Homo sapiens: one gene and its partner. The protein of the gene in region 1 purifies or fractionates together with the protein of each later gene. This does not show direct contact. Each region holds a gene or a part of one and is shown in the gene's direction. Other genes may lie near its edges.

Region 1 (4,279 bases):
TCCCCCTCCCCTCCCCTCCCCTCCCCTTCCCTCTTTTTATCACAGAGTCTCACTCTCTTGCCCAGGCTGGAGTACAGTGGCATGATCTCAGCTCACTGCAACCTCTGCCTTCTGGGTTCAAGCAATTCTCCTGCCTCAGCCTCCTGAGCAGCTGAGATTATAGGTGCACGCCACCATGCCAGGCCAATTTTTTTTTTTTTTTGTATTTTTAGTAGAGACGGGGTTTCACCATGTTGGTCAGGCTGGTCTCTGCTGAGACCAGCTTGGCTGGGGAGACCCTAACCCAGCAGCACTAGAGGAATTAAACACACACACACACACACACACACACACACACACACACAGAGAAATAAAGAGGTGTGAAGTGGGAAATCAGGGGGTCTCACAGCCTTCAGAGCTGAGAGCCTCAAACGGAGATTTACCCACGTATTTATTAACAGCAAGCCAGTCATTAGCATTGTTTCTATAGATATTAGATTAACTATAGATTAGATTAGATTCCCATAGAAGTATCCCTTATGGGAAACAAAGGGATTGGGCCCAAATAAAGGGATGTGTTTGGCTAGTTATCTGCAGCAGGAGCATGTCCTTAAGGCACAGATCACTCATGCTCTTGTTTGTGGTTTAAGAACGCCTTTAAGCAGTTTTCCGCCCTGGGTGGGCCAGGTGTTCCTTGCCCTCATTCCGGTAAACCCACAACCTTCCACCGTGGGTGTCATGGCCATCACGAACATGTCACAGTGCTGCAGAGATTTTGTTTATGGCCAGTTTTGGGGCCAGTTTATGGCCAGATTTTGGGGGCCTGTTCCCAACAGGTCTCAAACTCCTGACCTCGTGATCTGCCTGCCTCGGCCTTCCAAAGTGCTGGGATTACAGGTGTGAGCCACTGTGCCTGGCCCCTTGCCTCACTTTCTGACTTCCTATGGATGCTTGCAGGGCCCACTCCCCAAATAAACTCATCACCCTTCAATTTTTTTTCTTTGTTTAGAGATAGGGTCTTGCTCTGTCACCCAGGCTTGAGTGATCCTGGCTCACTGCAACTTCTATCTCCTGGGCTCAAGCGATTCTCCCACTTTAGACTCCTGAGTAGTTGGGACTACAGGTGTGCATGACCAAGGCTGGTTAATTTTTTTCTTTTTTTGTTTTTTTGTAAGACAGGGTCTTGCTATGTTGCCCATGCTGGTCTCAAACTCCTGGCCTCAAGCGATCCTCCTACCTTGGCCTCCCAAAGCATTGGGAATCCAGGCATGAACCCCGTTCCTAGGCGGCACTTGATTCCTGTTCCAAGATCTGGGGAAATCCGACCCGAAGGAAGCTTTGCTCTAAGACCTCCTTGGCCGTGTTGGGCTCAGACGTGGACTGAGGTTTCAGAGGAAGCAGTGGAGCGGCAGGAGCCAGGTAAAGGCAGTGGGTCACTGGCGGCAACCGGGTCCCCATGGTAACTTGGTCCCCACCCTGTGGCATCTGTGAGGTCACCCTGCTTCTCCCAGCTGGAGTAGGTGGGGGAGGCCAGACATGGAGGCCCTTCCTCCAGTCAGATCCAGCCTTTTGGGGATCCTGTTGCAGGTTACGAGGCTCTCAGTGCTGGTGAGTGGGGGCTGGGGGTAAGTGGGGTGGGGACCACACACCAGGCCCTTCACAGAGCCACCTCAGAGCTGCCGGGCCCAAGCCCTGCCTGTCCCATCCAGTGGAACGAGGTGGCTGCCTGCCTTCCAGAATAATCTGACATCTCCCAGAAGCCCCACTCCAAACTACAGTGCTGACATTTTCTTTTCTTTTCTTTATTTAGAGACAGGGTCTCGCTCTGTCGCCCAGCCTGGAGCGCAGTGGTGCCGGCTCAGCTCGTTGCAGCCTCCAACTCCCGGTCTCAAGCAATCCTCCCCCCTCAGCCTCCAAGTAGCCGGGACTATAGGTGTGCACCACCACGCCTGACTAATTTTTGTATTTTGTAGAGATGGTGTCTCACTACGTTGCCCAGGCGGGTCTCCAACTCTTGGCCTCACATGATCCTCCTACCTCAGCTTCCTGAGGTGCTGGGATTATAGGTGTGAGCCACCGCACCTGGCAGCATTTTCTCTATTGAGGGTCACTCCTATGGGTGAATCATTGTTTTTCCCATTCATTTTTTCTTTTTTTTGAGACAGAGTCTCGCTCTGTTGCCCAGGCTGGAGTGCAGTGGTGCGATCTCGGCTCACTGCAACCTCTGCCTCCTGGGTTCAAGCAGTTCTTCTGCCTCAGCCTCCCAAGTAGCTGGGACTACAGGCACGTGCCATCATCCCTGGCTAATTTTTTTTTTTTTTTGTATTTTTAGTAGAGACCCTGTTAGCCAGGATGGTCTCGATCTCCTGACCTTGTGATCTGCCCGCCTCAGCTCCCCAAAGTGCTGGGATTACAGACATAAGCCACTGCGCCTGGCTCATTCATCTCTCTCTCTTTTTTTTTTTTTCAGATGCAGTCTTGCCCTGTCGCGCAGGCTGCAGTGTAATGGTGCGATCTCGGCTCACTGCAACTTCCACCTCCAGGTTCAAGCAATTCTCCTGCCTCAGCCTTCCAAGTAGCTGGGATTACAGGCGTGCGCCACCACGCCCAGCTAATTTTTTGTATCTTTAGTAGAGACAGGGTTTCACCGCATTGGCCAGGCTGGTCTCAAACTCCTGACCTCGTAATCCACCCACCTCGGCCTCCCAAAGTTCTGGGATTACAGGTGTGAGCCACCGCACCTGGCCCATTCATCTCTTTTAAACATACACATGCTTGTGGTCGGGGTCACAACTCAGTCACACTTAGGAGGCCGAGGTGGGAGTATAGATTGAGCCTGGGAGGCCAAGGCTGCAGTCAGCCAAGATCATATAACAGGGGGCAGTTGAGAAAGACAGACACCATTAGATTTGCATCTTGGGACCGGGAGCTGTGGCTCACACCTGTAATCCCAGCACTTTGGGAGGCCGAGGCGGGCAGATCACCTGAGGTCAGGAGTTCCAGACCAGCCTGACTAACATGAAGAAACCTTGTCTCTACTAAAAATACAAAATTAGCCACGCGTGGTGGTGCATGCCTGTAATCCCAGCTACTCAAGAGGCTGAGGCAGGAGAATCGCTTGAACCTGGGAGGCGGAGGTTGCGGTGAGCCGAGATCCCACCATTGCACTCCAGCCTGGGCAACCCTGGGCAACAAGAGCAAAACCCTGTCTCAGAAAAAAAAAAAAAAAAAAAAAAAAAAAGATTTGCATCTTGGCTGTTTTACCCTCTAGCTGTGTGAATTTGGGCAAATCACTTCACCACTCTGAGCCCGTTTCCTCTCCTATAGAAATGATCTTGTGGGATCATGTGGGATATCATAGGTTTCCCTCCTCCCTGGTCTCAGCACCATAACCTGGGAGGTCCTATTTCCTAGCTCTACCCTAATTCTTCTCCCTGCTGGACCCTTTGGTCTCAGCATAGCTCCACCCTCCACGTCCCAAGCTCTGCAAATCCAGCCCGTGAGTGGGGGGTCTTGCAGCCAATCTCAGATGGTGGGGCCTGTGGACACGGGGATGGGGGGTCCAGGTGGGTGGATTGGTGTCACTCAAGGGCTGGGGGCTTTCCAGCTCTGATGAAGGGTCTCCAGGACTCAAGAACAGCTTTCCCCCACCTCACCCCAGTCCTGCAGCTTCATCTCAGTGAATGGGAGACACCGTTGTCCAACTCACCACCCAGATCAGAAATCTGGAATTCTTTTTTTTTTTTTTTGAGATGGAGTCTCACTCTGTTACCCAGGCTGGAGTGCAGTGGCACGATCTGGGCAAACTGCAACCTCCGCCTCCTGGGTTCAAGCAATTCTCCTGCCTCAGCCTCCCGAGTAGCTGGGATTACAGGCATGCACCATCATGCCCAGCTAATTTTTGTATTTTTAGTAGAGATGGGGTTTCACCAGGTTGACCAGGCTGGTCTCGAAATCTTGACCTCAGGTGATCCGTCTGCTTCGGCCTCCCAGAGTGCTGGGATTACAGGTGTGAGCCACCATGTCCGGCTGGAAATCTGGAAGTCTTTCTGGATCTCTCTCCTTCACCCTTCTCATTAGGTCTGTCGTGAATTATGTGACCCCTGCCCCATGTCTCTCACGCCTCCCTGCCCCTAATGGCATTGTCCTTTGCCCCAGCAGCCCTCCTGATGCCAGGGGACAACTGGTACAGAGGCAAAGCCCAGCTACTTGGAAGAAGACAAGTGACCTGGGTTCAAAGCCCACAGGATTGGGGTGGGGGATCGTAACATGGTAATAATAGCCATGAAACCTCCTTCAG
Region 2 (3,500 bases), on another chromosome or scaffold:
TTTATATTACATTACAATTATATTTTTATATATAATTATATATATATTTTTAATATTATATTATATTTTTATTTTATATATTATAATTATAAATATTTTTATATTTATATTTTTATAAATATAATTATATTTTTATATAAAATTAAATATAATTTAATTTTATATAATTATAAATATTTTTATATTTTATATTTATAATTATAATTTATATTATATATTTATATTTATATATTTATATTTATTTATATTTATATATTTAAATATTTATATTTATAGTATATATAATATAATATATTATATTATATATAATTATAAACATATATAATTATTATATTATAATTATAATTATAATGCTTTTAATAGTAATAATACTTTTAATAATAATAGACAAGTGATTAGCTTTTAATGCTAATCACTTTAATAATGCTTTTAATAATAATAATGCTTTTAATGCTTAATAATAGACAAGTGATTAGCTTTTAATGCTGAGATTTTGCAACTTGGAGGCTGTGCGACTCTAGACAAGTGACTTAGTTCATTGCTTCTCAAACTTTAATGTGTATGCACGACACCTGGGGAATCTTGTTTAAAAGGCAGTCTGATTCATCAGGGCCTGAGATTCTGCATTTCCTTTTTTTTTCCCCTTTTTCTGGAGACAAGATCTCCCTCTGTTGCCCAGGCTGGAATGCAGTGGTGCAATCCATAGTTCACTGCAACCTCAAACTCCTGGGCTCCAGTGATCCTCCCACCTCAGCCTCCCAAGTAGCTAGGACTGTGGGTATGTGCTGCTATGCCAAGCTAGTTTTTAAATTTTTTGTAGAGATGGAATCTTGCTGTGTTGTCCAGGCTGGTCTCAAACTCCTGGCCTCAAGCAATCTTCCTGCCTCGACTTCCCATAATGCTGGGATTACAGATGTGAGCCACCACGCCCAGCCAGATTCTGTATTTCTAACAAACTCCTAGATGATCCAAGTAGCTAAGCCTATTTGTGTCTGAGTGGCTTCAACTATGAGAACCTCAGCTGTAAAGTAGGAGGCAGATGGTATGTACCTTACATCAATGCACCTTTATGCCGAAGAGGTCTTCTCAAGAGTGTGTTTGGCAGGAGAGCCATGACTGGGTCTTTCCTCCTTTCACAAGGCTTGACCTTGGGTGGGGACCTCAGACTTGCCACCTCTCCACAGCTGCCTAAGATAGCTGCCTGGGTGACTCATGTCTTGGGAGAAGTCTTGTTGTAGTGACTTTTTTTTTTTTTTTGAGACGGAGTTTCGCTCTTGTTATTCTTATTATCATTTTTGAGATGGAGTCTTGCTCTGTCTCCCAGGCTGGCGTGCAATGGTGTGACCTTGGCTCACTGCAACCTCTGCCTCCCAGGCTGGAGTGCAATGGTGCAACCTTGGCTCACTGCAACCTCTGTCTCCCAGGTTCAAGCAATTCTCCTGCCTCAGCCTCCCCAGTAGCTAGGATTACAGGCACACACCACCGTGCCTGGCTAATTTTGTATTTTTAGTAGAGACGGGGGTTTCATCATGTTGGTCAGGCTGGTCTCAAGCTCCCAACCTCAGGTGATCCGCTCGCCTTGGCCTCCCAAAGTGTTGGGATTACAGACATGAGCCACTGCACCCGGCCTGTAGTGACTTGTTAATGCATAAGCCTTCTGGCTTTACGACTTCTGCCTTGTAATTCCCACAGCTTGGGCAGATTCATTCAACCTGGGGTTCCGATGTGTTACTTATCCCTGGCTCTTTGTCCTTTGCCTACAGGTGGTGGCCTTTATGAAGTCTCCAGTGGGTCAGTACTTGGACAGCCATCCGTTTCTGGCCTTCACCTTGCTGGTGTTCATTGTCATGTCGGCCGTTCCTGTTGGATTCTTCCTGCTCATCGTGGTGCTTACCACCCTGGCTGCTCTGCTGGGGGTCATAATATTGGAAGGTAGCCTGTTCCGTCATTCACCCCTTTAGAAAATAATTCAATTGGGAGAAAAATACTTTTGGGGCCATTTAAAAATTTTTTTAAGGGGCGGGGTCTTGTTATGTTGCCCAGGCTGGTCTCAAACTCCTGGGCTCAAGTGATCCTCCCACGTCGGCCTGCCAAAGTGCTGGGATTATGGCCATGGGCTACCATGCCTGGTTGTCTGCCATTCTTGTCAAAATCACATCAAGCAAGGCAACTTATCAGAGTAGGTAAAACATAGACTCTGGAGCCTGCATTCAAATCCCACCTCCACCACTGTGATTTGGGGCAAGTGGTTTACCTCTCTGAGCCTTAAATTCTTAATATGTAAAATGCAGATATAATAATACAATCTCAAAAGGTTGTTGTGAAGATTGAAACTTATGGCTCCATAAAGTCCTTAGCACAATACACAATACATGTCACAGAGTAGCTTCTCAATGAATGCTAGCTATTATTATTAAGCAGAGAGGCCATTCATTCCACAGTGAGTTATTGGGCACCTACTGCATGCCAGATGCCTCGCTAGGTACTGGAGACCACCTTCATCCTTCCTCCTGAAGTTCCACTACCAACAGTCAACTTCTCCCTGTATTCCTAAGTTAAAATTACTGGGAAAGCAAATCTGATTTGCTCACTTTGACTTTTCAAATCAGATCACACACCCCAGGCAAGTGGCCAAAGAGATGGTGGCCAGTGGGTCAGGTGATCACTTCTGGTCCATTCCGTGGCTTCCCAGAGCTAAGAGCACCCAGGGCTGTTTATTTGCCCCAGGGACAAGGCAGTTTACACTTGAAGGAGAAAGTAGGCATGGTCAGTGGATGAGCCAAATACAGCCTGGCAGAGTGGTTTTTGAGTAAATGTTGATAGATAGATGGGTGAATGCATGAATGAATGGATGGAGGAATGAATGAGTACCATAAGAAAGGAAATTTATAGAGAAAGGAGAGAGCCATTACATTTTGGTGGTACCATGCAAAGCTTTACAGCAGACAAGACTTTAAGGATGCATAACAACTTTGCCTCAGGGTGGGCAAGGAAGGGCCTTTTGGACAGGGGAACAGCATGTGCAAAGCCTCTAGAATAGTGGTTCTTGAACCTGAGTGTATTTAAATCTTTTTTTTTTTTCTAGATGGAATCTTACTCTGTCGCCCAGCCTGGAATACAGTGGCATGATCTCAACTCACTGCAACCTCTGCCACCCAGGTTCAAGAAATTCTCCTGCCTCAGCCTCCCAAGTAGTTGGGATTACAGGCATGCCCCACCATGCCCGACTAATTTTTGTATTTTTGGTAGAGATAGGGTTTCGCCATGTTGGCCAGGATGGTCTTGAGCTCCCGACCTCAAGTGATCTGCCCACCTCGGCCTCCCAAAGTGCTGGGATTACAGGTGTGAGCCACTGCACCCAGCTCCAAGTGTGTATAAATCTTACTTTCTTTATCAAAATACAGACTTTGGATCTTTTGAGACCAGGAGTTCAAGACCACTCTGGGCAACATAGCGAGATTCCCTCCATCTCTTTAAAAAAAAAAAAAAAGAGGCCGGAC

The links. Proteins that work in one complex are often made in the same cells at the same time.
Region 2: the proteins of TMEM270 (region 1) and LDAF1 purify together in Homo sapiens (affinity purification with mass spectrometry; one large-scale study listed by BioGRID and IntAct). This does not show direct contact.

The regions. Positions count from the first base shown.
Region 1 is NC_000007.14:73,859,680-73,863,958, forward strand, and holds the start of TMEM270 (transmembrane protein 270), read left to right. Parts: upstream 1-1,479; 5' UTR 1,480-1,515; coding exon 1,516-1,587; intron 1,588-1,870; exon of another isoform or gene 1,871-1,912; intron 1,913-4,279.
Region 2 is NC_000016.10:21,168,674-21,172,173, forward strand, and holds part of LDAF1 (lipid droplet assembly factor 1), read left to right. Parts: intron 1-1,763; coding exon 1,764-1,932; intron 1,933-3,500. UniProt on the Homo sapiens protein: Plays an important role in the formation of lipid droplets (LD) which are storage organelles at the center of lipid and energy homeostasis. In association with BSCL2/seipin, defines the sites of LD formation in the endoplasmic reticulum.